2 separate regions of the Homo sapiens genome follow, and region 2 is linked to region 1. Evidence: fine-mapped expression QTL. A gene starts in region 1. The other region holds a variant in brackets. All regions are shown on one strand. Distances are between the middles of the regions.

What was found. PIP is the estimated chance that this variant, and not a neighbour inherited with it, causes the effect.
Region 2: its variant is fine-mapped to the expression of CLEC11A in whole blood (INTERVAL, PIP above 0.99).

Annotation. Positions count from the first base shown.
Region 1 is chr19:50,715,894-50,731,234 of GRCh38, forward strand. It overlaps CLEC11A (C-type lectin domain containing 11A), which reads left to right and starts at 7,471. Exons shown (of 4, transcript NM_002975.3): 1 at 7,471-7,779; 2 at 8,012-8,198; 3 at 8,517-8,708; 4 at 9,129-9,815. The coding sequence starts at 7,633. The coding sequence ends at 9,574. SHANK1 (SH3 and multiple ankyrin repeat domains 1) reads right to left here and starts at 3,909. Exons shown (of 24, transcript NM_016148.5): 1 at 3,513-3,909; 2 at 772-1,069; 3 at 382-585. The coding sequence starts at 1,026. RefSeq lists silencers at 8,820-8,939, 8,980-9,039 and a cis regulatory region at 12,259-12,978.
Region 2 is chr19:50,745,322-50,760,662 of GRCh38, forward strand. It overlaps the pseudogene GPR32P1. Among named protein-coding and RNA genes, the nearest start is that of GPR32, 17 kb to the right of the region's middle. The variant G/A (reference allele first, on the strand shown) is at 7,306.

The DNA.
Region 1 (15,341 bases):
GTGGCAGTGGCTTTTCCGACAGTGCTGGGTATTATGGTATATGTGCACTGCAACCCCTGCCTTGAAGGAGGAGGAGTCTGGACCCCACAGGGAATGTTCTAGAGTGCCTACTGTAATTGGGAATCCTCCCCCAATTTGATGGGTGAGGAGAAGCTTGGGGCAGGAAAGTGACTTGGCCAAGGCCACTTAGCTGGTCAGAAGCAGAACAGATGGTAATTTGAACTCAGGACTCTCTGACTTCCCTGTGATGCTTAGAAGGTCTGGACTCGCACACTGGGTGCCCCCTCGTTAAGGTTTCGAGTGTGTTAAAAAGTGGGTGGGGGGCAGATGTGTTTTAGGGCATGCCTTCTCTTATCAGTGAAGGAGTTGGGGAAGCTTCACCTCCAGGTAGGGGACCCCCTTCTCAAAGGACTGGGGGTACTCCCGCAGCAGCCTCTCCTCCTCCAGGAAGTTGGCATCGCGGCCGGAGGTGGCCGGTTGGAACAGGCCATAGTTGAGCACATCCTGCAGGCTCTCGCTCAGGGCACAGAGCACCTGCTGCTTGGCCGTCCAGATGGTGGCATCGGGGTTGAAGCGAAGGCATTTCTGGTTGGGGAAGAGATAGGGGCTAGGGTGGGCCAGGGGCCAGAGGAGAGCCTGAGGTGGGTTGGGAAGTGAGCCAGGAGCTGAGTGTGGGGGTGATTCCTGGGAGGATACCCAGCACCAGTGGACTCCCCATGTCGGTTGGGGCACTGTCCCTCTCCTGCCGCTGGCCAGTGGGCAGGTACTCACTGTCTGGTGCAGGTCCGGGATGCCAATCCTGAAGACCATCATGCTGAAGTGGGCGTCGTCTGGGACGGACATTGAGCGGCCCTGGAGGCCTCTAACAGAGGCCAGGCTACCAGGTGCCCCACTGCCCTGGCCCCGGGTCCCCCGGGGGCCTCGACCTGGCCCGTCTGGGGAGCTGTCGGACTCTGAGCCCCCCTCGGGACACTCGCTGGCACTGTGGCGTTCCTCGTCCTCGCTTGTCGCGGGGCTGTGGGTCATTGTGGGGCCACGGGGCGACGGGGGACGGCAGCATCACAGGCGGCTGCAGGGGCCAAGGGCGGCCATCAGACTAGGAGCCCGGGACCCCTCAGAGGCCGCAGGCGCTATTCGGTGGTCAAGCGGTCAAGGGCAGCCTACCCCCACTGCCCAAGATAGGCAGGAAGGAGGCTGGACACACCCTCGGCCTGCACGGCCTCCCCTGCCGCCTCCTCCCACGCTGGCACGCACACACCCCTGTCCCTGACATGCTTCTGGCATGTGTCTCCTTCCCTGCCCTTGGCCCCGCTTGCAGCCCGCCCCCTGCGCCCCACTTTGCTGGTGACCCAGCGTGGCCGTGTCCCAGAAACCGCAGAATCACCGCGGGAGCTACTGGCCCACTTTGCCAGGCCACAGAAAATGCAGCTAAAATTAGCTAAGGACAGACAGGTGGACAAACTGACAGGCATCCTGCCCTCCTGGCCCCAGCCTGGCCCCTCATCCCAGGGCCGGGGGGTGGGGTTGGGGAGAAGCTGAGGCTGACACTGAGATGTAGTAAGGGGGAGAGGGAGGTGTGGTGAGCCTGGAGCGGGTGGAGCTGGTGACTTCACTCAAGTGTGGCTGACAACGCGTGGCATGCCGAATAGTGCTGGGGAATCTGCCGTCCCAGGGGAGCAAGGGGCACTGAGATGGGGGTGTCATGGGCAGAGCATTTGGCCTAGGGTGTCCCCAAGGGAACCACAAGAGGTGGCTTTTGGAGACTGGGGCATCTTGAGAGGGTGTGCGGGTAGGTGGGGAGGTCGGCCTGGGGAGTGCTGTCCAGGTGACAGTGGTGTGGTGGCCCGGGTAGATGTGGGTGGCTGCAGATGACCTGTAGCTCTTTTCTAGGACTGCAGGGTGGGTGGGCTGGCTTGCTGGGTACTAGGGGCTCCACTCTGAGGACTGGGGGTGTTAGGAGGGAGGCTAAGAAGTGAGAGGAGGGTCTGGGGAACTGAGTGGGGGATCATCTCTAGATCCTTGCTGTTCTCCCTTGAGGTGGCCTTATGAGGGTGGAGCCCCTTCCAAATGGGGTCCGCCTCCCTTCTGTTCTCCCCCAACTCCCACCCCAGCACCGGAAACCAGAATGTCTGGTCTGGTCCCTCCCCCCAACACCAGGCCCGGTTCCTGCACCGTTGCCATGGAGATGGGAAGCAGTGGAGGGTACTGCTGACTTTGGGGGAGTGGGGATGGGCTGGGGGGTTGGGAAAGGGAAGACTAAATGTGTGTGGTGGGAGGAGAGTTCCAGGAGGTGTGGGCGAGCGAGCCTCTAACCCAGGGCCGGCGGACCCCTCCCCCACGCGCGGCAGCGCTGCGAAGCCCCCTCCCCCTCCAGGTACCCAGCCACGCCGCCCCACCTCGTCCCTGCGGAGACCCCGGCTGCCTCCTCCCTGCCCCGCCGCACAGCCCACCTCGCGATCTGGGGCCCGCAGACACTCCCCCTCGGCTGACCCTGGCTGACCCCCAGCCTCAACCCCGCTCGGAGGGGGTGGCCGGTGGGATGAAAGAAAAGCTGGCTAGGGCCCCCCGCGCGTACGGCTGCCCCAGCCCCCCCGGGCCGGCTCCGGCCCCTCCCCCTCAGGGCTCGCGGGAGGGAGCGGGCACGCTCCGCCGGGGCGGCATGAATCAAACGCTCCGCGGCTAAGAATAGCTGGCACGCAGCTGGTACCGAGACGGGCTGAGGAATCGGCGAGGGGGGTGGTGGAGGACGCGAGAGAGGGGGTGCCCTGGGAGGCTGTGGGGGGACAGGGGGCGGCTGGCGTGGCCGAGAGCGGGGCCGGGGAGAATGAATGGAGGCGGAGGGAGGCGGGGAGGGGCGGGGAGAGAGAGCCGGAGCCGAGGCTGGGAAACTGGTGGGGGAGAACCCGGCCGGGGAGAGGGGCGGGGGGCACCGGGGAGCAGGAGTCGGGGGCGGGAGCCGAGGGGGCGCGCCGGCCGGCGGTGTAGGGACTGGAGACCTGGTGGGGACGCAGGGAGCTTGGACAGGGGTGGAAAGGGACTGGAGGAGCCTGGAAGGAGAAGCGGGAGCTGGAGGGGTCGAAAGGGGCGGAGGAGGCCCGGGCCTAGACCCTCGCTGGAGGGGAGTGGGGACCAGGGTGACCTGGCGGAGGGGCCCAGGTACGCCAGGGAGGGCGAGGCGGGGGAGTGGCCGGGCTGGGCGGGGAGGCGGGTACCAGGACCGAGCCCTTGGCCCCGGAGAGCCGGGAGGCGGGTTCGGGATAGGGGCTCTGCTGGCCGGGGGTGGGGGGCGCGCCCTCCCATCAAGGATGCGATCTGGGACGGGGCACCGGGGACCCGGGCGTAACCCAATTTGGTGTCGCCCAGGGCAACGCTCCCCACCTCACCCGTACCCCCAGCCGCACACCCAGGCCAGGAGCCCGGCGCCGGGCCAAGGACATCCGGGGCGCCCTCGCCCCCTCCCGCGGCCCCGGCCCCGCAGCTGCCCCAAACCCCCAGGTTCTCGACCCCCTTACCTGCCTGGCGGGGCTGCTGAGTCCCGGTCGGCGGCGCCCGCGGCCCCTCCCCCCTCCCCCCACCCCCCACCCCCCCGGAGACGGGGACCCTCAGGCCATGCCCCACCGCCCCGGAGGGCGAGCGGGCCCGGGGAGGGGGCGGGCGGGGACCGGGGGGGAGGGCGGGAGGGCCGAGGACCTCACCCCCCCCGCGGGCCGGGCCTGGCCATCCGCAGAGCGCCCCCCCTTCCGCCGCGGCCGCCGCGCCCCTCCTCGCCCGCCCCCGGCTCGGTCCGGCCGGCTCCGGGCGCCGCGTCTCCGCCTGCTCTTCCTCCTCCTCTTCCTCGGGCCGCCGCCGCCGCCGCCCGCTCCGCGCCTCCTCTGCCACCCTTCTCGCTCTCTCGCTCTCGCTGTCTCTCCCTCACCCTGTCTCTCTCCCTCCCTCTCTCCCTCCCTCCCCTCCCTCCGCCCTCTCCCCTCCCTCCGGGAGCCGGCGGAGGAGACATCGCCCCTCCCCGCGCCCCCAAACCTCGCCCATCCCCCACCACCGCCGGCTCCGCCCCCTACCCTTGCCCTCCCCCACCACTCCTCCCCACCTCCGAGTCCCCAAATCCTGACTCCGCCCCTGCTTGCTCCCATACCCCGAGGAAGGGGTCCTGCCCCCATAAGGTGCCCCCCCACACACACCTCAGGACCACCCCCTCCCAGAGAGCTCCCCGCCGCCCTACACAGAGTGGGGCACAATAAATATTTGTTGCCAGACTCTACACCCCCAAATTTAAGTGTGAAGGCTATAGATTCCCACCCTGTCCCCCCAAACACACACACACCCTTTCCATTTAAGCACTGGGTCAGGGCACACGTGGACATACCTGGGCCAGGCCACATTTCCCCAAGGCACAGGTGCATAGTCACCAGCTGTAACGGCACCTGCAGAGTCCCCACATACACACACTCTCCAGCGCATGCATGCCCAGACACAATGCACCTGGGGTACACAGCTACAAACACACCCAGCTACATGCAGTTGTCACACCCCTGTGCCCGGGCACACACGCAGCACATGCACACATTTGCCCACCACACACGCACGTGCGCGCGCACACACGCACACAGGCGTTCACCCCGGTATGCATGCCCAGATCTCTCAACACCAAAACGGAGTTACAGCACTGTAGAGACGTGTGCACGCCTTCCCATCACACCCACCCACCGTGCTGTCCATTGCACTGGCTCGCACTCACCCGTTTACATGCCCAACACCGTGCCATCCTTCCCCTCCAGGATAGTTACTGCTGACATTCCTGGAGCACTTTCTGTGTGCCAGGCTCAGGGACTTTCGCCATCCCCATTTTCCAGAGGGGGAAACCAAGGAACAGAGAGGCTAAGTAACTTGCCCAAGGTCATCCAGCTGTAAGGAGGTGGTAACAAGGATCAGGAACAGGTAGGCTGGCTCCAAAGTCCTCACTTGACAACTATGGTGCACTACTGGGCATATCCCCTCATAGTTGCATATCCTTATTCATCACACACAGACACACCCAACCGTCTCCTCAGAGTTTGCACATGTCTGTGTAGGCACGCATATGCAGCCAGCTGCAGGCAGACAGCTCATTCATGCCTGGGACGCACCCACAGGGACAGAGCAGATCCCACAGGGCAGCAGTGAGTGGTGAGTGTCCCCTTAGCCCAGGCTTCCTCATTCTCCCAGCTCCAACAGCACCTCCAGGGCCTGCAGGGGGCAGTTCTAGGCAGCTTCTGGGTTCCCCTCCAGCTGCAGGCTCTCCGGGGTACCCGAGTATGAGCTGGAGGAGGTGCCTGCTCAGCCTGGGGAGGCCTCTATCTTGATGCGTACCCACTAGCCCAGGTGGTGAGCAGCTGGGCCCGGGGAAAGCACAGCTGCCCATGTTGGCTCCAGCAGCCAGAGAGGCTGTGCACCCCTGCACACTTTACAAGGCCTTTCCCCACATACGCATTATTTCTTGAGGTCTGTAGCTCCTGGTGAGGGGCCCCAGGTTCCCGATGGGCACCTGAGAGGCCCAGGCTCTGAGGCAGGGAGCAGTCTGCCCAAGGTCACAGTGCCCTCGATGTACCAGGATTTCTTGGAAAACGGAAGGCTGGAGGCACTGATTTCCAAGGCCCCTCCTGGGGCTCCCGGCAGCCGAGGGCAGATGCCCTGCTCTTGGAGCCAGAAACCTTGGCTAGCTGCCGCCACACTGGTGACCTCCAGCAGGCTATGCTGTTTCAGAGCCTCGGTCTCCTCCTTTGAAGAGCAGGCCCAGTGATCCTTGGCTGGTGTGCCCCATGCTTGTTGGCACCACCAGCCAGGCCTGGGCGGGAAAAGCCCTGCATGACTCATGGGCCTGACATAGAGGGGCATGGCATGGCATTGTTCTTCCTTGCCTCCAAGCCTCTCTCCCACTGCCCTCACCACCTCTACCTACCCTGCCACCACCACCCTGGGAACTTGGGTGCCAGCAAACCAAAGAGGTGAAGCTTCCAGGCCTTTGACCCCACCAGGAACGGCTACCCTCTCGCCCACTCAACAGGTTGATTGAACACCTACTATGTGCTAGGTAGGCCTTGTGCTAGGAGATGCATCAGTGCATAAAAATCCCTGCTTTCATTGGCAGGGAACAGACATAAACAAACAAGATCATGCCAGTCTTGATTATACCAAAAAGATGAAATGGGGCATTTTAATAAAGTAACTTGCGGAATAGATAAGGTGGTTGGGGAAGACCTCCTGGAGCTGAGACCTCGATGATGAGAAGGAGCTGGGGAAAGAGGCTTCTAGAAGGAGGAAAGGGCTAGTGCAAATGCTCTGAGGTTGTAATCAGCTTAGTATTTGGGGATGAGCCAAGAGGCCAGGGAAGGTGGAGGCTGGGGGTGGGTGAAGGGAATGGGGGTGATGAGGCTGCAGAGGTGCAAAGGGTTCTTCCTTCCCAGCCCCCAGCATGGTAGGCTGCGCTGAGGACTGAGGCCCGGGCTTGGCTTCCCTCCTGCTTATGATGGGAAGGTGGGGGAGCAGGGGAGTGGGGAGTGATGTGATCTGATTTATGGTTTGGAAGGATTGCTTTGGCTGCGGCAAGCAGCCGGGATTGGAGGGGCTCAGGAGGAAGGAGGGGGAGGGCGAGACTGCAGTGGTCCAGGCTGAAATGAGGTGGCTTGCTGAATGCTCAGAGCTCCTTGAGCACACAACCTAGCGTCTGTCGATTTCACCTCCTGGAGAAACCTTCCCTGACTGCTCCGCCAGACTCCTCACCCTCTCCCATCTCCAGCCCCCTCATCCCCGGAGCTATCTGGCTGCTGGTCTGCAAGCAGCTGGAGTCCCCAGCATCACCCAGCCCACAGCCTGGCCTGCAGGAGGCTTCTAGTAAAGTGGCCAATTAATCCCCGAGCCCCGTCTTCCAGGGTCATGCACACAGTCACACGCGTGCTCTTCACATGTGTCACCCTGCCCCCACACACACTCACTTGGATCTCCAGACAAGGGCTTGGAGGGTAGGATGGGCAATCTAGGGGGCAGGAGGGGCCCTGGAGTCTCCTCCATTGAGTGTGCAGGCGATGGTGGCCACAGGGTAATAACAACCTCAGCGAGACCCTGAGGTCTGCCCCTCCTTAGGAATGGCCAGGCAGGGAAGAAGGGAGCAGTGCTCGGTCCCAGCATCCCACCACTGCCGAGATGGTTCTGAGCGGGTTCCTGGGCTGAGGCCGGGGCCTGTGTTTTCCAAGATTCCTTGGAGAGCCAGCTCCATCCTCTTCCTGATTATCTGATCTTTGGGCTACAGCAGAAGGAAAGAGCAGGGCGGAAGCGAGCTCTGGAAAGTGGAAAGAGGAGGGTGTGCGAGGAGACCCAAGGCGGGATCTAGGCTTTGGAACGTTGGAGGTTTCCGGCCACAGAGGCAGGGCCTCCGGGGAGCCAAGAGGGGCGGGGAGAGACACACACAGAGAAGCAGAGGAGACCAACGGACCGGACAGAGACGAGGAGAGGAACAGGAAGAGAGAAGCTGGGAGAATCGGGAACCTGGGGGCTAGTGACCTGCACACAGGGCAGGGGCACTCGGCAGTTCCCAGAGGCCACCCCTCCCACCCCAGACATCCAGACATCTGGAACTTTGGGTGCCAAGAGTCCAGCTTAATGCAGGCAGCCTGGCTTTTGGGGGCTTTGGTGGTCCCCCAGCTCTTGGGCTTTGGCCATGGGGCTCGGGGAGCAGAGAGGGAGTGGGAGGGAGGCTGGGGAGGTGCCCAGGAGGAGGAGCGGGAGAGGGAGGCCCTGATGCTGAAGGTGAGCTCTGGAGTGTCAGGGAGCTATGGGTGGTGAACTGTGGGTCTGGGAGGGGGTATTGCAAGGTTAGGGAAATGGACAATGAGGAGCGATTGGGATAGTCTCAGAGGAGTGGGAGGGTGATGGGCTCAGAGACAGGACTCAGGCAGCAGAGAATGAGTTATGAGTTGGAAAGGGGTGAATGGGGCATCTTGGTGGCAGGCTGGGGCTCACCACCCCTCCCCTGCCCCAGCATCTGCAGGAAGCCCTAGGACTGCCTGCTGGGAGGGGGGATGAGAATCCTGCCGGAACTGTTGAGGGAAAAGAGGACTGGGAGATGGAGGAGGACCAGGGGGAGGAAGAGGAGGAGGAAGCAACGCCAACCCCATCCTCCGGCCCCAGCCCCTCTCCCACCCCTGAGGACATCGTCACTTACATCCGTGAGTAACCAGAAGCCCTCACCCCCAAACTCCTAGGCCGCCGCGGTCACTTTCGCAAAAATGAAGGGTCGGTTCACTGCCAAGTGGCCTTTCAGTTGTCCATTGCCCAGCCCAGAGCCCCCACACCCCTAGGAGCCCCAGGTCCACGGCCATGCCTCCTAAAGGCCTGGGCCACTCGACCCTACCTTCCAGGAGTCCGGGGTGCCCCCCCCACCGCCACCCCGCCCTCAGGAGCCCTAGATCCCAGTTCTCCAGGTCCTCAGGCCCCCCGCTGCATCTCCAGGCTCCCCCTCCAGCATGATCCCTGTCTGTCCGCAGTGGGCCGCCTGGCCGGCCTGGACGCAGGCCTGCACCAGCTGCACGTCCGTCTGCACGCGTTGGACACCCGCGTGGTCGAGCTGACCCAGGGGCTGCGGCAGCTGCGGAACGCGGCAGGCGACACCCGCGATGCCGTGCAAGCCCTGCAGGAGGCGCAGGGTCGCGCCGAGCGCGAGCACGGCCGCTTGGAGGGTGAGTCCGCGGCGCGCGGGGTGGAAAAAAATGAGACTATCTGGGCCAGGAATGGGACTGGTTGAGAAGGTGACCCTAGGTGTCCGGGGCGGGAGAGTTCGGGAGAGCTGCTGTGTGCTAGCGGACGGGGTTAGAGAGCTGGGAGGCTGAATGCAGGGAGCGGGTGGGCACTCCAGACCCGCGCGGACCCGACTGGGGCAGCACCACGCCCCCTACAGTCCAGCTCCCACCGCCTGGCCCCGCCCCTGGCGGACCAGACTCTCCACCTCCTGGCTCCCGCGGTTCTGACCACGCCTCCTCCCAGCCCTCCCCATGAGTTCCTGGCCCCGCCTCCCTCCACCCCCGGATGTTTTGTCCTCGCCCCCTTCCAGACTCTGAATGCATGACCCCGCCTCCTTCTCTACCCGGCCCCGCCCACAGGCTGCCTGAAGGGGCTGCGCCTGGGCCACAAGTGCTTCCTGCTCTCGCGCGACTTCGAAGCTCAGGCGGCGGCGCAGGCGCGGTGCACGGCGCGGGGCGGGAGCCTGGCGCAGCCGGCAGACCGCCAGCAGATGGAGGCGCTCACTCGGTACCTGCGCGCGGCGCTCGCTCCCTACAACTGGCCCGTGTGGCTGGGCGTGCACGATCGGCGCGCCGAGGGCCTCTACCTCTTCGAAAACGGCCAGCGCGTGTCCTTCTTCGCCTGGCATCGCTCACCCCGCCCCGAGCTCGGCGCCCAGCCCAGCGCCTCGCCGCATCCGCTCAGCCCGGACCAGCCCAACGGTGGCACGCTCGAGAACTGCGTGGCGCAGGCCTCTGACGACGGCTCCTGGTGGGACCACGACTGCCAGCGGCGTCTCTACTACGTCTGCGAGTTCCCCTTCTAGCGGGGCCGGTACCCCGCCTCCCTGCCCATCCCACCACCCGGCCTTTCCCTGCGCCGTGCCCACCCTCCTCCGGAATCTCCCTTCCCTTCCTGGCCACGAATGGCAGCGTCCTCCCCGACCCCCAGTCTGGGCGCTTCTGGGAGGGCTCTTGCGGTGCCGGCACTCCTCCTTGTTAGTGTCTTTCCTTGAAGGGGCGGGCACCAGGCTAGGTCCGGTGCCAATAAATCCTTGTGGAATCTGACTTGAGGGGCAGTGAAGGCAGTCTTGGACTTTATCTCCTGCAGGGGAAGCCGGGAAGGGCCAGACCCTGGTCTTTGGGCGCGTGTCCTGGCCTTTGGATGCCTGTTCTGCTTTTTACAGATGTCATTTGAGCCCCAGATGGAGTGATGGAGAAACACAGGTGCATATGTACACACGGTCATCTGTTCTGTGCACAGATGGCCGGAGTACACGCGTACAAACGCTGTAGACACCTTCACCTCCATCGTGCCCTCTCTCTCGGCCTTTGGGACCCAGGGCCTGCCAGTTGTCCCAGGCCTTGGTCTTGGTCCTGGTCAAAGAGATTTGGGAAACGTGAAGGGGCTAAAGGCTCTGACAAGTCCGGCAGGAAAGAGCCCGTTTAATTTGTTTAAGTGGCGTGTCCAATTTGTTTCCCCAGATGATATGGTTTCATGGACTTGTTGGGATGATATATTGAGACATGGACTTAAGGACTCACCCAACCCTGAAGCTTAGACTTCCTCCCAATTTTCCCTCCTCTGCTTCCTGCCAGTGAGGCCAGGAGCCAGTCCCTTCCCCTCTGTGAGCCTCGGGTTTTTCATCTGAACGTGGGCACAATCCCTCCTACTTTGTGCGGCTCTTGGGATGTTCAGGTGAGACCAGGACAGTGTGCATTTGGTGGTGGCTGAACTTGAGCCACACACTACCTTCCGTCCTCACCTTTTTTTTTCCTTTTTTGAGACACGGTCTTGCTCTTTCGCCCAGGCTGGAGTGCAGTGGTACAATCATGGCTTACTGCAGCCTCAATCTTCTGGGTTCAAGCAGTCCTCCCACCTTAGCCCCCCAAGTAGCTGGGACTACAGGCACGCCCCACCACACCTGGCTAATTTTTGTATTTTTTTATAGAGGTTGGTTTTCGCCACGTTGCTCAGGCTGGTCTTGAACTCCTGAGCTCAAGCAATCTGCCCTCCTGGGCCTCCCAAAGGGCTGGGAATACAGGCATGAGCCACAGTGCCTGGCTCTCCCTCACCATTTTTCATACCTTTACTCCCTGGGGGCAGTGAAGACACCCAGGAGTCCGCCAGCCGGGGCCTCAGCATAGTGGCCAGCTCTGTCTAGAGGAGAGGCTCTTTGGAAATCACCCTAGTACCTCCCCCAAGGTTGGCATCATGGGCGTGACCCTGACATCAGGGAGCCTAGGAATGGGGATGTGACCCTGTCTGTCCTTACCACTCTGCCCCTTCCCTTCCTTCAGCCATTGCACCACTGCCTAAAGGGTGACCATTGGATCCACACATGGGAGGAGCAAGCCATCACTGTCAGCTTGGATAGAGGGGAGATCACCCACCCTTCTCCCTTCAGGAGACATTTCTCAGCCCCACATCCCCAGAGGAATACAGAATAGGAGAGTGGGGGTGTGGCCTGGAGTCAGCCTTCCATCAGAAATTCTTCTCATGCTGAGCTTCAGTTTCCCCGGGGAGGGATAGGCAGCCCTAGATCTTATAGCCAACCAGAGGTCAGATTAGGCAGACAATGATGAGTATCTATTATTTCCCAGAGGGGTCTCTGCCCTGGCAGAGCTTCCATTCTGGAAAGTATTTGGGCATGGTACACCATGGCTACCCGCCCAGATTCTAGAGCCAGATGGCCCAGGTTCCAATCCTACCTCAGCCACTTATCTCCTGGGAGAACCTGAGTGAGACATAACCTTGCTACTTCTCAGTGTCTCCATCTGTACTGTGGGGATAATAACAGTATTGATCTAGAATAGTACCAGACACAGAGGGGTCTTTGCAGTTCCCAGATCTGAGCTTCACCAGGGCAATTCAACCTCACCTTCATCTCTCTGTACTCTCTCCTGACACTGTGCTTTTGTATATGCAAAGATCTCCATCCTCCCTCCTCTCTAGGGTAAACACCCACTTCCAAGAATTGGATAACACATCACCCCAACAACCAGCCCTTCCCCCAGCCCCTTGCGGGGTTAGGGATCCCCTTTGGTATCCACAAACCCCTTGTTCCTCTCTTGACCCAGCCCTGATCAGACAGGCTGAGGGACACTCCAGGTGCGTGGGGGAGGGCAGGACAAGGTATGACTATCTCTGTCCCCAGCATCGCCTGGCATATGGGAGCCCTTTGAATGAAGATGCTTGTGTGGCATCATGCAGGGGACCCTGAGATGAGTCGGATCTCGGCTGCTTTTCCTCCCTGGCCTCCCCAAGGCTGGGTGAGGCACCTTCTCTAGTTTCCCGTAGGGTCCAGGGCTTTCCACATCACTTTAGGTGCCACTGTCTGGTCTGACAGACAATGTCTGTCTCCCTGGCAGGGCCTGGAGCTATCATACCAAGCACAGGGCCAGCTGTGGGCATGCAGAGAGAGAGGTCTGAAGTGGGGAGTGGCGTGCCTGCAAGGACGGTTTATGCATCAGAACAGCACGCCTATATGTGGCATTCGGCGCTGATTCCTGACTCTGGTCTGCGTGGGAAACCTACTCTCTCCTCCAGGAAGCCCCCCCAGACTTCCTGCGGGCCAGAGTTTGCCAATGTCCTCTCCCTGGCTCTCTGCGGAGCGCTGGTAGTGTGCAAGGCCAGAGCCATGGACCAGGGGAGGCCTCGGCAGCTGATTGGAATAGATGCATTAAGGGATCCCAGGGAAGTAGTAGAACAAGGGCAGGAGGCCTGGGATGATTCGACGGAGGAGGAAGAACCAGCGGCCGCACGGGCTTGCAGGGCGATAAAGCCCAGGAGGCCGAGCAGCAGGCGCATCACCGCCTTACCAGCACCACGTTTTTCCGCAGTAACCGGATGACTCCTACGGGTCACCTCGCAAGCCCCGCCCCCTCCTCCCATGTGAGGTTCGCCTGCCTTTCCCCGCAAGCCTGAGGGCCACGCCTTGGCGGTGAGGTCGGAGCTCCGCAGTCTCCAATCAGAGCTCAGACCCCTCCTCTCCACCCAGGCCTCGCCCCGAGGTACTCTGGAAAATGTAGTCCTGTCACGCGCCCACGGGTAGGAAAACCCCAAGTCGCGAAGCCTTAACATTCAACTCACGTTTGGATCTCTCAGACGAGAGTTTTTCAAAACAGGTGCATTTCCTTGGGTAGATCATAACCACTTTTTAAAAAGTGAAAAAAGTTCGTATGAAATATTAGTATCATAGAAAATGGTAAGACGCTTTTCAAAATTTAAACGTCGATATGCTGAATTAACAATATAAAATTCAATATAAAATTTCTTTGTGGCTAACCACTGGTCCAAACCAACTTAGTTTCTTTCTTTTCTATTTATTTTCAGGTTCTGTTTTTTTTTTTTTTTTTTTGAGACAGAGTCTCACTCTGTCGCCCAGGCTGGAGAGCAGTAGTGGCACAATCATAGCTCACTGCAGCCTCGACCTCCTGAGCTAAAGCAATCCTCCCGCCTCAGTTTCCTGAGTAGCTGGGACTACAGGCGTGCACCTTAAAAATAAACAAAAACAAAAAACAAAAAAACCAGACAATTTTAATTTGGAAATAATTTTAAACTTATAGATAACCTACACAAATATAAACACTGGAGTACAAACAAATCCTCTACTCTGATTTGTTTGTTAACAGTTTACCTCATTGCTTTGGCTTCATCATTCCATCTATCCATCCATCCACCCACCCACCCACCCATCCTAGCCCAATCATCAGGGACAAGCAAGACAAAGTCAGGTTTGTTGACCCACTGAAATGAGAGCGATCAGCCCCCAGAGGAGAAGCTGCAATCAAGTTATAGGATTTGGAAGAAGAGAGAAATTTGGATGAAATTTAAGTGAAACAATGTTTAGCTAGGTTTAGAACAAGGTAGGAATGTGTATAAGGGAGTCAGCATCAGGCCTGGGCCGCATACAGTAGCTCATGTCTGTATCCCAGTGCTTTGGGAGGCCAAGACAAGAGGATCGCTTGAACCCAGGAGTTCAAGACCCGCTTGGGTGACATCTCTATGGAAGGAAGGGAGGGAGGGGAGGGAGGGGAGAAAAGGGGAGGGGAGTGAGGGGGGGAGGGAAGGGGAGGAGAAAATTATCTGGGTGTGGTGGCACACGCCTGTAGTCCCAGCCACTTGGGAGGCTGAGGTGGGAGGATTGCTTGGGCCCAGGAGTTTGAGGTTGCAGTGAGCTATGATTGTATCACTGTATTCCAGTCTGGGTGACAGAACGAGATCCTGTCTCAAAAAAAAAAAAAAAAAAAAGGAAATATCAGATTTGGACTGCAAAGTGGACCTAAGGTCTTGTTTCCCTGGAAACTACAATGTTAATATAAATGTGGCATGCTGTGCCCAGAAACTTTTTATTTAAAACTCTGCACCAGGGCTGGAAATGGAGGCTTCTTATCTTTGTCAAAGTGACAGATCTTCCAGGAAAGAAAGATGAGTCTGTTTCATTCTTACGGATAGACTTTCATACCGCAGAGTTTCCCACAGTCTATGATTTTAGAGAACAAAGTTTCTCAGTGAGTAAGATAGCAGTAGTCGCTCATAAAGGGGGCTGTTAGAACACTTTTACTGCTGCAGCTCGCCCCTGGGTGAAATGTGTCCTGTTAACCTTGCGGTTGGCTTTATCTCAGTCTATAGATGAAGGGCAGGCCAGATTTTTATAGTATTAGCTGGCTTTAGCTCATATATATATATATATAATTTTTCTTTTCTTTTGCTGCCTTTCTTTTTCTTTCTTTCTCTCTCCCATCTTTCTTTCCTTTTTCTTTTGTCTTTTTTTTTTTTTTTTTTTTTGAGATGGAGTTTTGCTCTGTCATTCAGGCTGAAGAACCATGGTGCAATCTCGGCTCACTGCAATCTCCACTTCCTCAGTTCAAACAATTCTCCTGCCGCAGCCTCCTGAGTAGCTGGGACTACAGGTGCCTGCCACCACACCTGGCTAATTTTTGTATTTTTAGTAGAGACAAGGTTTCGCCATGTTGGCCAGGCTGGTCTTGAACTCCTGACCTCAGGTGATCCACCCGCCTCGGCCCCCCAAAGTGCTGGGATTACAGTTGTGAGCCACCGCGCCCAGCCAGTTGTCATGTCTCTTTAGCCTCCTTGAATCTGGAACATTTCCATATTTATAATATTGACATTTTGGTGGCCGGGCGTGGTGGCTCACGCCTGTAATTGCAGCAGGTTGGGAGGCCGAGGCGGGTGGATCACGAGGTCAGGAGATCGAGACCGTCCTGGCTAACATGGTGAAACCCCATCTTTACTAAAAATACAAAAAATTAGCCGGGTGTGGTTGCAGGCGCCTGTAGTCCCAGCTACTCGGGAGCCTGAGACAGGAAAATGGCGTGAACCCAGGAGGCAGAGCTTGCAGTGAGCCGAGATCACGCCACTGCACTCCAGCCTGGGCAACAGAGCAAGACTCCGTCTAAAAAAAAATTTTATATATATATATGCACACACATTTTGGAAGAACAGCTCCTTGCCCTTTTAAAAATAGAAGTTCCACATTTTTAGTCGGTCTGATGTTTCCCCATGATGATTAGATTCAAGTTATACATTCTCCACCAGAATAATGAGGTGAGGTGTGTACTTCTTTGAAG
Region 2 (15,341 bases), 29 kb after region 1:
CGGAGAAAAGAATTGCCTATTCACATCTATTCTTTTAGCTTTCTTACGTTTTAACCACTTGAGCCGTAACGGGGTGTGAGGGGATTTGCGGTGATGGAACTGTTCTGTGTTTTGGTTACGGGGTGGTCACGTGATGCGTGCATTTGCCAAAACCTCAGAACTGCACCTAAAAAGGGTGAATTGTGCTGTATGCAAATTATGCCTTTATTTAAAAATGCTAACTAATTTTTTCTCTTTTTTCTCATATTAAGGAGACCGATTTGACAGCCTTTAAATCAAAATCTCTGTGTATAAAACTCTCACTAAAATTATGTCAAGAAATAGACTTGGAAAAAAACTTATATTCCCTGCGACAGAAATAGCGTCAATAATCTTATCATGTAAACCACATAAAAAAGGAACAAAGTTGGATTCCAGTAGGCAAGTGGGCAAAAGACACGGAGAGACGTTTGCAAATCGTAAAGAGAGGGAGTGGCCAACCATCATGGCAGGAAGACGTTCCTGCACACAAGAAATCAAAATCCAACCCCGTCCATCAACAAGCAGGAAACAATCTCACAGGAATCCCCGGGGCGGTGTGGCAGGCCGGCGCAGCCTCTCTCCTGCTCGGTTGTAGGGTTGTCAGGACCTTCTGGGTGACAGAGACAAGATCTTTTCTTTCTTGGGGTCCACTTGTGGGAATCGAGACCAAAGAAAAAATCCTAGGCCAGGCGCGGTGGCTCACGCCTGTAATCCCAGCACTTTGGGAGGCCGAGGCGGGCAGATCACGAGGTCGGGAGATCGAGACCATCCTGGCTAACATGGTGAAACCCCGTCTCTACTAAAAATACAAAACATTAGCCGGGTGTGGCGGTGGGCGCCTGTAGTCCCAGCTACTCGGGAGGCTGAGGCAGGAGAATGGTGTGAACCCGGGTGGCGGAGCTTGCAGTGAGCCGAGATCACGCCACTGCACTCCAGCCTGGGCGACAGAGCGATACTCCGTCTAAAAAAAAAAAAAGAAAGAAAGAAAGAAAGAATCCTAAACACGGACAAAATTTTCATCCCCAAAGGTGTTATTTACAGCACTATTTTTAATGCAAAACAGTTAGGGAGGAAAAAACAACACTTAAATTTGCCAAGAACTGATTGGGTAATAATGCCATAAACCACCGTGAGGTACTATGATTTAAAAAAAGGTTCAGAGCCGGCAGAGCAGCGGTGGTGAGTGGCTGGTAGGAGATGAACATAAAGCTGGGGGCCGGGCACGGTGGCTCAGGCCTGTAATCCCAGCACTTTGCGAGGCTGAGGTGGGTGGATCACCTGAGGTCAGGAGTTCGAGACCAGCCTGGCCAACATGGCAAAACCCCATCTCTACCATAAATACAAAATTATTTGGGTGTGGTTGTGCATGCCTGTAATCCCAGCTACTTTCGAGGCTGAAGCAGGAGACTCGCTTGAACTTGGGAGGCGGAGGTTGCAGTGAGCCGAGATCGTGCCATTGCACTCCAGCCTGGACGACAAAAGAGAAACTCCGTCTCAAAAAAAAAAGGATGAAATCTTGTGCTTTGTGGTAACATGCATGCGGCTGGAGACCATTATCCTCATGGAATTCACGCAGGAACAGAAAACCAAATACCACATGTTCTCACTTATAAGTGAGAGCTTAACATTGGGTACTCATGATGTAAAGATGGAAAAATGGGCACTGGCGACTGCTAGAGACCGGAAAGGGGGAGGCGGCGAGGGTTGAATAACCAACTGTAGGGGACTACGCTCAGTACCTGGGTGGTGGGGTCATTCGTAACCCAAACCTCAGTATCACGTAATATACCCAGGTCGGCCAGGCGTGGTGGCTGACGTCTGTAATCCAAGCACTTTGGGAGGCCGAGGTGGGCGGATCACCTGAGGTAAGAAGTTTGAGACCAGCCTGGACTACGTGGTGAAACCCCGTCTCTACTAAAAATACAAATATCAGCCGGGCGAGGTGTTGTATGCCTGTGGTCCCAGCTACTCGGCAGGCTGAGGCAGGATAATTACTTGAACCCCGGAGGCGGAGGTTGCAGTGAGCCGAGATTGCACCATTGCATTCCAGCCTGGGTGACGGAGCAAGACTCTGTCCACTGCCCCCGCCCCACAAACATACATATATAAATATATAACTATTATATATAAATATATAATATATATCTATTAAATATATAACATATAATATTTATATCTATAAATATATATGAATATTATATATAAATATATAATATTTATATCTATAAATATATATGAATATTATATATAATATATAATATATATCTATTAAATATATATAAATATTATATATAAATATATAATATATATCTATTAAATATATATAAATATTATATATAAATATATAATATATCTATTAAATATATATAAATGTTATATATAAATATATAATATATATCTATGAAATATATAAATATTATATATAAATATATAATATATATCTATTAAATATATATAATATATAATATTTATATCTATAAATATATAACTATTATATATAAATATATAATATATATCTATTATATATAACATTATATATAATATTTATGTCTATAAATATATATAAACATTATATATATATTATATATCTATTAAATATATATAACTATTATATATAATATTCTATATCTATAAATATATATAACTATTTTATATATCTCTCTCTCTCTTTCTCTCTCTCCAGGTCCATGTACCCCCTGAATCTAAAATAAAAGGAGAAAAAAATACCAGAATGGCCACCAAAACAAAGCAAAAAAGGCTGAATGTTGTGTGCAGCAGGAGAAATACATTTAGAATTTCACCATGGGAGGAGGTAATCCCCAAATCCAGGCAGAGCACAGCCTGGGGAGAACAACCGTCATCTCACCAGCTCTCCCCGGTGTTGCCCTTAGAAAAGGAACTGGTTTCATTTTTTAAATTATTATTTGTTTTTGAGATGGAGTCTCACTGTGTCACCCAGGCTGGAGTGCAGTGGCGCAATCTCGGCTCACTGCAACCTCCGCCTCCTGGGTTCAAGTGATTCTCCTGCCTCAGCCTGTCGGGTAGCTGGGACGACAGGTACCCGCCACCACACCTGGCTAATTTTTTGTATTTTTAGTAGAGATGGGGTTCACCATGTTGGCCAGGGTAGTCTCTAACTCCTGACCTCAAGTGATCCGCTGGCCTCAGCCTCCCAAAGTGCTGAGTCACTGCGCCCGGCCTTCACATGCACTCTTTAAAGCAACACCAGGTTGACGTCTACTTGGGTTTCACAAACTATGACCCACCGCCCAGGCCAAATCTGACGCACTGCCTGTTTTGGGGCAGTCGGTGAGCTCATGGTTAAGCAAAATCAAAAGAAGGATAATAATGTTCACGACACACGAAAATGATGTGAAGTTCAAAATTCAGTGTCCATAAATAAAGTTTTATTGGCACAAAGCCCTGCCCACTCCTTTACCTGTTTTTCGTGAATCTTCCGTCATCCCACAACAGCAGAGCCCTCCTACCTCAGCCTCCCAAGTAGCTGGGATTACGGGCATCCGCCACCACACCTGGCTAATTTTTTTTTTGTATTTTTAGTAGAGACGGGGTTTCACCATGTTGTCCAGGCTGGTTTTGAACTCCTGACCTCAAATGATCTGCCTGCCTTGGCCTCCCAAGGTGCTAAAATTACAGGAATGAGCCACCATGCCTGGTAACTGTATTTCTCTTAAAGGGGTCCTTTCTTTTGGAAATTGATGCTGAAATATTTATTTATTTATTTATTTATTTATTGAGACAGAGTTACACTCTGTTGCCCAGGTTGGAGTGCAGTGGTGTAATCTCAACTCACTGCAAACCTCTGCCTCCCGGGTTCAAGCGATTCTCCTGCCTCAGCCTCCTGAGTAGCTGGGGCTACAGGTGTGTACCACCATGCCCGGCTAATTTTTGTATTTTTAGTAAAGATGGGGTTTCACCATGTTGGCAAGGCTGGTCTTGAACTCCTGACCTCAAGTGATCCGCCTGCCTCGGCCTCAGGTGGATCACCTGAGGTCAGGAGTTTGAGACAAGCCTGGCCAATATGGTGAAACCTCGTCTCTACTAAAAATACAAAAATTAGCTGGGCGAGATGACACCCACCTGTAATCCCAGGTACTCGGGAGGCTGAGGCAGGAGAATCGCTTAAATCTGGGAGGTGGAGGTTGCAGTGAGCCAAGATCGCACCATTGTGCTCCAGCCTGGGCGAGAGAGCGAGACTCCAACTCAAAAAATAAAATAAAATAAAATAAGCATTGGATTGCATTTTTTAGGCTGTGTCTTTGTGATACCTTACCCTGTTTTAACCGGAGTGACTGTCTCCTAGCAGAGAGAGCTGGACAGACTCCATTTTGGTTTCTTCACTTGGGGCCCCCCGTATCCCCCTTAAGGGAATAACTAGTGCAAGCTGACACCAAGCACATCCAGGAATGCACCTGCTGATAAGATATTGAGGCAGCCTGTATTAGCAGCTCCTGCTCGGTGGAAGGTACCTAAAAGCCCCTGCATTTATCTCTTAGTGATAGTTTAAGCCCCTGCACCTGGAACTGTTTATTTTTTGTAACTGCTTCCATAACCAATTAATTTTTTAACTTTTTGCCTGTTCTGCTTCTGTAAAACTACTTCAGTTAAACTCCCCCTCCTCTATTTAGACCATAGTATAAAAGAGAATCTAGCCCCTTCTTCGAGATGGAGAGAATTCTAAGCGCTAGCTGTCTCTCAGTCGCTGGCTAATAAAGGACTCCATAATTTGTCTCAAAGTGTGGCATTTCTCTCTAACTCGCTTGGTTACAACATCTTGTCTTTCTGGTGACACCTGTTGACATGATGTGCCTTAGAGTCAGTGAAATGTTACTGCTGAGGCCGCAGCATTCTCCCGAGGGAATAAAGCCATGTGCAGCATAACGAGGTTTCTGTCAATGACAGACTGCACGTCCGACGGTGGCCCCACCGATTATAATGGAGCTAAGACTGCAATTGCCCGGTGATGTTGTCGCTGTCCTAATGGAGTAGCTCAAGGCGTTACTCTAATGTTTGTGCCGATGCTGGTGTACACAGACCTACTTGACTGCCAGTCATAGAAAAGCATAGCACATATAATTGTGTACAGTACATCATACCTGTCAATGGCAACGGGCAGGACATGGTGGCTCGCACCTGTAATCCCAGCACTTTGGGAGGCTGAAGTAGGGCAATCGCTCGAGGCCAGAAGTTCGAGACCAGCCCATGCAACATAGTGAGACCCTGTCTCTACAAAAAAGAAAAAAAAGTCAATAAACAACTATGTTACTGGTGTATATATTTACTATATATAGGTTTCTTTGTTTGTTTTTTGAGATGGAGTCTCGTTCTGTCACCCAGGCTGGCTCACTGCAACCTCTGCCTCCCCAGTTCAAGTGATTCTCCTGCCTCAGCCTCCTGAGTAGCTGGGATTATAGGCATGCACCACCATGCCCGAATACTTTTTGTATTTTTAGTAGAGATGGGGTTTCACTATGTTGGCCAGGCTGGTCTCGAACTCCTGACCTCAAGTGATCCACCCACTTTGGCCTCCCAAAGTGCTGGGAAACAGGTATGAGCCACCACGGCCGGCCTTTATTCACCGTACTATAGTTTTTATTGTTATTTTAGAGTGTACTCCTTTTACTTATAAAGAAAAGTTAACTGCTTGAGTCTAAGAGTTCGAGACCAGCCTGGGCAATATAGTGAGACTTAGTCTCTGCAAAAAAGAAAAAAATGTAAAAATTAGCCCAGTGTGGTGGTGTGTGCCTTAGTTCCCGCTACTCAGGAGGCTGAGGTGGGAGGATCGTTTGAGCCTGAGAGGCATAAGCTGCAGTGAGCTGAGACTGTGCCACTGCATTCCCGCCTGGGTAACAGAGTGGGACCTTGCCTCAAAAAAAAAAAAAAGGAAAGGGAAAAATTAACTGTCAAAACAGCCTCAGGCAGCTCCTTCAGAAGGTGTCCAGAAAAAAGCACTGTTATCCTAGGAGACGACAGCTCCAAGGGTGTTATTGCCCCTGAAGATCTTCCAGTGGGATAAGACGTGGAGATGGAAGACAGTGACGTTGATGATCCTGACCCTGCATAGGCCTAGGCTGATGTGTGTGTGTTTGTGTCTTACATTTTTTCTTTTTCTGAGATGGAGTCTTGCTCTGTCACCCAGGCAGGAGTGTAATGGTGTGATCTCGGCTCACTGCAATCTCTGCCTCCTGGGTTGAAGTGATTCTTTTGCCTTAGCCTTCCCAGTAGCTGGAATTACAGCACTTTGGGAGGCCGAGGTGGACGGATCACTGGAGGTCAGGCGTTTTGAGACCAGCCTGGCCAACATGGTGAAAACCCATCTCTACTAAAAATACAAAAATTATCCAGGTGTGGTGGTGCATGCCTGTAATCCCAGCTACTTGGGAGGCTGTGGCAGAAGAATCGCTTGAACCTGGGAGGCGGAGGTTGCAGTGAGTTGAGATTGTGCCATTGCAAATCAGTGTGGGTGACAGAGTGGGACTCCGTCTCAAAAAATAAATAGATGGTCGCATTTGGGCTATGGCCTAGACCCCTGTGCTAGATCATCTGGCACAGGTGTGTAGCAGACTCTCCCACCTAGGTTTGTGTAAGCACACTCTATGATATCTATACAATGATGAAATCACCTAAGGATACATCTCTCAGAATTTATTCCTGATGTTAATCGAAGCAGGACTATAGCAGTATTAATAACGAGACCTAACAATGCTTGAGCACCTACTATGTGCCAAGAAGTTTTTTTTGTTTTGTTCTGTTTTTGTTTTTGATGAATCTCACTCTGTTGCCCAGGCTGGAGTGCAGTAGCTCAATCTCGACCGGCTGCAACCTCCACCTCTGAGGTTCAAGCAATTCGCCTGCCTCAGCCTCCGAAGTAGCTGGGATTACAGGCACCCACCCTGATGTCTGGCTAATTTTTGTATTTTTAGTAGAGACAGGGTTTCGCCATGTTGGCCAGGCTGGTCTTGAACTCCTTGTCTCAGGTAATCCACCCGCCTTGGCCTCCCAAAGTGCTGGGATCACAGGCGTGAGCCACCGAGCCCGGCCGCAAGAAGTTTTAAGTGTTTTGTATCTCTTAACAAATTTCATTAGCACAAAGAGGGCAGAGGAGAATTGGAATGGCCTTGCGGAAAGACCTCCCTGGCACCCGCCTCCTCCTTATGCCCCAAGCCTGCAGCCCCTGGGGCCTATTATTAGGGCCCACATCTGGTGACATTTCCCGGACTGATAGCGATCTCTGAAGCTCTTGCTCAAGGTTCTTTCCTGGAC[G/A]TTTATCTGCTCCAAAACTCACAGCTAGCTTCCTGCCATCAGCCCCCTACCTTTAACGTGGGCTCAAGGCTGGCGGCCACCTGGGACTGACGACAGAGACAGAAAGAGCCCCCTCACCTTGCCTCACCCTCAGACACAGCACAAGGTGACGGGACCGGGATTCGTTGCGGGGTGTGTCTCAGGGAGCCAGGAGGTAGGAGCTTGGGGATTAGGAGAGTTGAAGGGCACTCTCCAGGGTATACAAAAAGGAGGTAGTGGGCTGGGCACAGTGGCTCACCCCTGTAATCCTAGCACTTAGGGAGGCCGAGGCAGGTGGATCACCTGAGGTCAAGAGTTGGAGACCACCCTGGCCAACATAGTGAATCCCCATCTCTACTAAAAATACAAAAACCAGCCGGGTGTGGTGGCAGCTGCCTGTAATCCCAGCTACTTAGGAGGCTGAGGCAGGAGAATTGCTTGAACCCAGGAGACAGAGGTTGCAGTGAGCTGAGATCGTGCCATTGCACTCCGGCCTAGGCAATAGAGTGAGACTCCATCTCAAAAGAAAAAAAAAAAAAGAGGTGGCAAAAAGGGGCTGAAAGTTCTGGGCCACCTCCTCTGGGTGAGGAATGTTCTCATGCCATATGCGTGAACTGTGCCTGGTCAGAGGTATTTGACTGTCTTCATCACTGCGGTACCCCCAGCGCTTAGGATAGTGTCTGGTGTACAATTTGGGCTCAATGCATAATTTTACACTAAATGAATGAATCCATCCTCAGATGACAAAGGAGAGATTGCCCTCCTTAATGGATCACTCATCGATTATTTACCAAGTGCCTGCTGTGTTCCAGGGGCCAGGAGCAAGCCACACACCAGCCTCGCCTCTAGGGAACTCAGAGATGAATAATGCAGATGGGTGATCACCAAATGATCCAACAAACGCGGTCTAATTGCTGCTGCCTGTAACCAGCTCTTTTTTTGTGGGGGCTCGGGGGGAACGGGGGGACAACAGAGTCTTGCTCTATCACCCAGGCTGGAGTGCAGTGGCATGATCACAGTTCTCTCCAAACTCCGCCTCCCGGGTTCAAGCGATTCTCCTGCCTCAGCCTCCCAAGTAGCTGAGATTACAGGCATGCACCACCACACCCAGCTAATTTTTGTATCTTTAGTAGAGATGGGGGTCTCACCATGTTGGCCAGGCTGGTCTCAAACTCCTGACCTCATGCGATCCTCCCACCTTAGCTTCCCAAAGTACTGGTATTACAGGTGTGAGCCACCGTTCCCAGCCTGTAATCATCTCTTCATGGGAGAGAAGCTCCTATAGGAGGGTCTGATTGAAAAGGGCAGGAAAAACTTTGGGGAGAAAGTGAAATTTGCACTGAGATCGCAGGAATGAGTTAAAAAAAAAAAAAAGCAGAGGAAAGAAAAGGTGTTCCAGGCAGAGGGGCAGCACATGCAAAGGCCCTGGGGTGGGAGGGAGATGAGAATCTTGGCAATGGACACAAAGGTAGGGAAGCCGGGATTTGGTGCACAAAGAGGGGGAAGGTGCAAGAGAAGTCTGGAGAGGCTGGCAGGTGCCCCAGCTCTCACCAGTGGTGCCGGGGAGACTCATATTTATCCCACAAGCAATGAAGAGCCACAGTGTAATTTTCCAGTTTGAACTGTATTTTTTTTTTTTTTGAGACAGGGTCTCACTCTGTTGCCCAGGCTGGAGTGCAGTGGCACAGTCATGGTTCACTGCAGCCTCAATCTCCTGAGCTCAAGTGATCCTCGTGCCTCAGCCTCTCGGGTAGCTGGAATTACAATGCAAGCCACACTGTTTGGCCAATTTATTTTTATTTTGTAGAGACAGGGTTTCGCCTTGCCACCTAGACTGGTCCTGAAGCCCTGGCCTCAAGTGATTCTCCTGCCTGGGTCTCCCACAGCGCTGGGGTTACAAGGTTTGGGCTTTCAAAGGATCACTCTAGCTGTAGGGTGGTGAGTGGCTGGTAGGAGATGAATATAAAGCTGAGGGCCAGGCACAGTGGCGCACACCTGTACTCCCAGCACTTTGGGAGGCCGAGGTGCATGAATCACCTGAGGTCAGGAGTTCAAGACCAGCCTGGTCAATATGGTGAAACCCCGTCTCTACTAAAAATATAAAAATTAGCTGGGCATGTCCCCAGGGTGTGTGCCTATAGTCCCAACTACTCTACTCAGGAGGCTGAAGCAGGAGAATTGCTTGAACCCGAGAGGCAGAGGTTGCAGTGAGCCAAGATTGTACCACTGCACTCCAGCTTAGGCAACACAGTGAGATCCTGTCTCAAAAAAAAAAAAAAATGCTGGGGCGCTGTGTGCTTGGATGATAGGGCTGTGGAGACAGGACATAGTGGACAGAGGCAAGAGGCTTTTTGGAGGCAAAATCGACAGGGCTTTGTGATGAATTGGGTGTGCGTGTTGGGGGAGTAGGAGACAGAGGTATTCAAGGATTCTACACCTCTATCTCAGACGAGCATACTGAGGCTCAGGGTGGGGATGGGGGGCAGAAAGCTCTGAACCCAGGATCACACAGTCATAATCCAGCATCTCAACTAGAGCTTCGACCTATGCCTGTCTGCTGTGTAAGCTCAAGCTTTCCTCAACCCCAGACCTCTCTTCTCTGCCTGCACCTCACCCTCGGAGGTCATTTTCAGGTTCAAAGACATAAATAGTATCTAAATTATTTTTGTATTTTTTTGTAGAGACAAGGAAGGTCTTGTCATGTTGTCCAGGCTGACCTGGAACTCCTGGACCCACACAATCTTCCCGCCTCTGTCTCCCAAAGTGCTGGGACTAGAAAAGTGAGCCACTGTGCCCTGCTGGCATCTAAATTCTGACTCCCACATGCCCGTACCCAGCCAGGAACCCCTCTGTAATTTTTTTGTTTTAATTTTGAGACAGAGCCTCACTTTGTCACCCAGACTGGAGTGCTGTGGTGTGATCTTGCCTCACTGTAACCCCCATCTCCTGGGTTCAAGCGATTCCCCTGCCTCAGCCTCCCGAGTAGCTAGGATTACAGGCACCTGCAACCACACCCATCTAATTTTTGTATTTTTAGTAGAGATGGGGTTTTGCCATGTTGGCCAGGCTGGTCTCAAACTCCTGACCTCAGGTGATCCGCCCACCTCGGCCTTCCAAAGTGCTGGGATTACAGGCGTGAGCCACTGTGCTGGGCCCCCTCCTGTAATCTTGCTGCCGGTATCCAGCTGCCTAAGTGAACTTTCCCCGGGATGTCTTACAGGCATTTCAAAGGCGAAGTGACCAACCCGGAGCTCCTGGTCTTACCCCAAACCTGAGCTCCTGGTCTTACCCCAAACCTGCTCTCCTGCAGTCTCCCCCATCCCAGTGCACAGCAACTCCAGCTTCCATCGGTTCAAAAGTCCTGCAGTCACCCCGACACTGCTCTCCCTCTCACCTCACACATCCAGCCCAGCAGCAAATCTAGCCAGCTCCACCTTGACCCTGGAATCTGCTTCCCACCCCCTCCTCTGACATCACCCTGGTCCCCATCCCCATCACTGCCCACCTGGGTTACTGCAGCAGCTTCCTCCCGGCCTCCTGCTTCCATCCCACCCCCTCAGTCTAGTCTCAACCTTAAAGTCACAGTGATTGTTAAGACCTAAGTCAGATATTGTTCCTTCTCTGCTCAACAGTCTCTTGTAACTCCCATCTCACTCACAGGAAAGGCCAGGAGAGTCTGCACTATGACTCACAGGGTCCTGCTCCATCTGTCCGCTTCCCTCTCTGCCTTCACGTCTCACCTCTCTTCCCATTGCCCACGTGGCTCCAGCCACACCGGCCTCCCTGCTGTTCCTTGAGCATTCCAGGCACCGTCCTGCCTCAGGACCTTTGCACAAGCTGCTGGTTCTGCCTGAAGGGCTCTTCCTCCAGATACGTATGTGCCTCACTTTGTCATTTCCTCCAAAACTTTGCTCAAATGTTATATTCTTTTTTTTTTTTTTTGTAATAGTCTCTCCCTGTCTCCCATGCTGTAGTGCAATGGCGTGATCTCGGCTCACTGCAACCTCTGCCTCCCGGGTTAAAGTGATTCTCCTGCCCTAACCTCCCGAGTAGCTGGGATTACATGTGTGTGCTACCACGCCCAGCTAATTTTTTTGTGTTTTTAGTAGAGACGGGGTTTCACCACGTTGGCCAGGATGGTCTTGAACCCTTAATCTCAGGTGATCCTCCCGCCTTGGCATCCCAAAGTGTTGAGATTACAGGCATGAGCCACCGAGCCTGGCCAAATGTTATATTCTTATTGAGGTCTTCCCTGACAACCCCGTTTAATGTACCAGTGTCCCCTTTCTGCTTTCCGTCTTGTCCCTCACATTCTCAATTCTCCTTAACTTGATTTTTTTTTTTTTTTTTTGGAGATGGAGTCTCACTCTGTCGCCGAGGCTGGAGTGCAGTGGCCTGATCTCGGCTCCCTGCAACCTCCAACCTCCCAGGTTCAAGTGATTCTCAGCCTCCCGAATACCTGGGATTACAGGTGTGCACCACCATGCCTGGCTAATTTTTGTATTTTTAGTAGAGACAGGGTTTCGCCCTGTTGAGCAGGCTGGTCTCGAACTCCTGACCTCAGGTGATCTGCCTGCCTTGACCTCCCAAAGTGTTGGGGTTACAGGCGTGAGCCACTGCACCCGGCCAAAAAATTTTTAATTATTTATTTTTTATAGAGACTGGGTCTCACTATGTTGGCCACCTTGGACTGGAACTCCTGACTTCATCCAGTCCTTCTGCTTCAGCCTCACAAAGTGCTGTGATTACAGGCATGACCCTCCACACCTGGCCCCCTCCACTTTACTTATTATTTTTCCATAACACTTGGCAATCTTCTAAAGCAGTATATCATGAATTAATTTATTATATGTATTATACCTGACATCTCCCACTGGGATGTAAGTTCCACGAGGGCTTGTTTTGTTACATGAGTTATCTCTGGTACTTAGAGCAATATTATTGTGTCCAGTGAGCCGAGATCGTGCCATTGCACTGCAGCCTGGGTGACACAGCAAGACTGTGTCTCAAAAAAAAAAAAAAAAAGAAAGAAAGAAAGAAAAAAGAACAGTATTATTGGGTCATAAAAAGCATTCAGGCTGTGCTCAATGTCTCACACTTGTAATCCCAGCACTCTGGGAGGCCAAGGTGGGAGGATCACTTGAAGCCAATAGTTGAAGAGTAGCCTGGGCAACACAGCAAGACCCCATCTCTACAGAAAAGAAAACTAAGGCTAGGCACAGTGGCTCACACCTGCAATCCTAGCATTTTGGAGGCTGAGGTGGGTGGATCATGAGGTCAGGAGTTGGAGACCAGCCTGGCCAAAATCATAAAACCCCGTCTCTACTAAAAACACAAAAATTAGCCAGGCGTGGTGGCGTGTGCATGTAGTTCCAGCTACTTGGGAGGCTGAGGCGGGAGAATTGCTTGAACCTGGTAGGTGGAGGTTGCAGTGAGCCGAGATCAGGCCACTGCACTCCAGCCTGGGAGACAGAGCAAGACTGCATCTCAAAAAAAATAAATAAATAAAAAAAATTAAAAAAATTAGCCAGGCATGGTGGTAAGTGCCTGTAGTCCCAGCTACTCCAGGAAGCTGAGGTGGGAGGATCTCTTGAGCCTAGGAAGTGGAGGCTGCAGTGATCTATGATTGTACCATTGCACTCCAGCCTGGGTGACAGAATGTGACCCTGTCTCAAAAAGAATAATAATAATAATCATTCCATAAAAAGTATCAAATGGAGAAATAAATCATCAGTGGGGTCTCGGAGGGGACCAGGGGCTGCAGTGACAGGCAACCTGGGGCCCTGACACAGGGTCATTCCTGTTCCAGGAAGATGAATGCTTCCAGATGCCTGTCTGAGGAAGTGGGGTCCCTCCGCCCTCTAACCATGGCTGTCCTGTCTGCCTCCTTTGTCGTCGGAGTGCTGGGCAATGGGCTGGTGCCGTGGGTGACTGTCTTCCGCATGGCCCGCACAGTCTCCACCGTCTGCTTCTTCCACCTGGCCCTTGCCGATTTCATGCTCTCACTGTCTCTGCCCATCCTCGTGTACTATATTGTCTCCAGGCAGTGGCTCCTTGGAGAGTGGGCCTGCAAACTCTACACCGGTTTTGTGTTCCTCACCTTCTCCACCAGTAACTGCCTCCTGGTCCTCATCTCTGTGGACCGTTGCATCTCTGTCCTCTACCCCGTCTGGGCCCTGAACCACCGCACTGAGCAGAGGGCGAGCTGGCTGGCCTTCGGGGTGTGGCTCCTGGCCGCCGCCTTGTGCTCTGCGCACCTGAAATTCCGGACAACCAGAAAATGGAATGGCTGTATGCAGTGCTACTTACAGTTCAACTTGGAGAATGAGACTGCCCAGATGTGGACTCAGGAGGTCTTTGGGAGACAAATGGCGGTGATCATGGCCCACTTCCTGCTGGGCTTCCTGGGGCCCTTAGCAATCATAGGCACCTGCGCCCACCTCATCCGGGCCAAGCTCTTGCGGGAGGGCTGGGTCCATGCCAACCGGCCCAAGAGGCTGCTGCTGGTGCTGGTGAGCGCTTTATCTGCTGGTTCCCATTTAACGTGATGCTGTTGGTCCATCTGTGGCGACGGGTGATGCTCAAGGAATTCTACCACCCCCAGATGCTGCTCATCCTCCAGGCTAGCTTTGCCTTGGGCTGTGTCAACAACTGCCTCAACCCGTTCCTCTACGTCTTCGTTGGCAGAGATTTCCAAGAAAAGTTTTTCCAGTCTTTGACTTCTGCCCTGGCGAGGGCGTTTGGAGAGGAGGAGTTTCTGTCATCCCGTCCCCGTGGCAACGCCCCCCGGGAATGATGGAAGACTTCAGCTGGAAGCTGGAAGCCGTCCTTCTTAGTTTGCTTGTGGCCTCTTACCTTGACTGGCTTCTAAAACCCTGCCAAATCCTGCCTCTTCTTTCAGGAAGTCTTCCGGCAACCCCTCATCTAAAGCTCTGTGGTAGAGACAGCTACTTACTCCCCAGTGTCCATTCTTCCCTTTCTTTTTATCTTTTTCCTTTTTTATTTTTTGGAGACAGAGTCTTATTTTGTCACCCAGGCTGGAGCGCAGTGGCACAGTCTTGGCTCACTGCAGCCTTGACCTCCAGGGCTCAAGCCATCCTCCTGCCTCAGCACCCCCGCCCCCCACCCCCAAATAGCTGGGACTACAGGCATGTGCCACCAAGCCTGGCTAATTTGTAGAGATGGGGTTTCATCATTTTGCCCAGGATGGTCTCAAGCTCCTGAGTTCAAATGATCCTCCAGCCTTGGCCCCCCAAAATGCTGGGATTACAGGTGTGAGCCACAGCGCCTGGCCTCCCCTTTGCTTGTAGTAAGACTCCTGTTTGTTTCAAACGAGGCACATGCTTAACTAGAAAAGAAAAAAAAGACTACATTTCCCAGAATCCTTTGCATGTCGTACAGCCATGTGACTGCTTCTGGCCAATAAAATGTAAGTGGCAGCAATCAATGTAACTTCCTTGAAGAGCCATTAAATGGAAGAGGCCTGTCCTCCATTTCCCCATCTCCCCCTTTCTATTGTCCAGAATGCAGGCATACCAGTTAGCTCTTGTTGCGCAACAAACACCATCAAAGTTTAGAGGCTTAAAAACATAACCATTTTTTTTATAGTGTCTTGTTCTGTTGCCCAGGTTGGAGTGCAGTGGTGTGATCATAGCTCACCACCACCTCAATCTCCCAGGCTCAAGTAGTCCTCTCACTTCAGCCTCCTGAGTAGCTGGGATTACAGGCATACCCCACTGTGCCCAGCTAATTTTTTTTTTTTTTTCTTGAGACGGAATCTCACTTTGTTGCCCAGGCTGGAGTGCAGTGGCGCCATCTCAGCTCACTGCAAGCTCCGCCTCCCGGGTTCACGCCATTCTCCTGCCTCAGCCTCCCGAGTAGCTGGGACTACAGGCGCCCGCCACCATGCCCGGCTAATTTTTTGCATTTTTTTTAGTAGAGACGGGGTTTCACCATGTTAGCCAGGATGGTCTGTATCTCCTGACCTCGTGATCTGCCCGCCTCAGCCTCCCAAAATG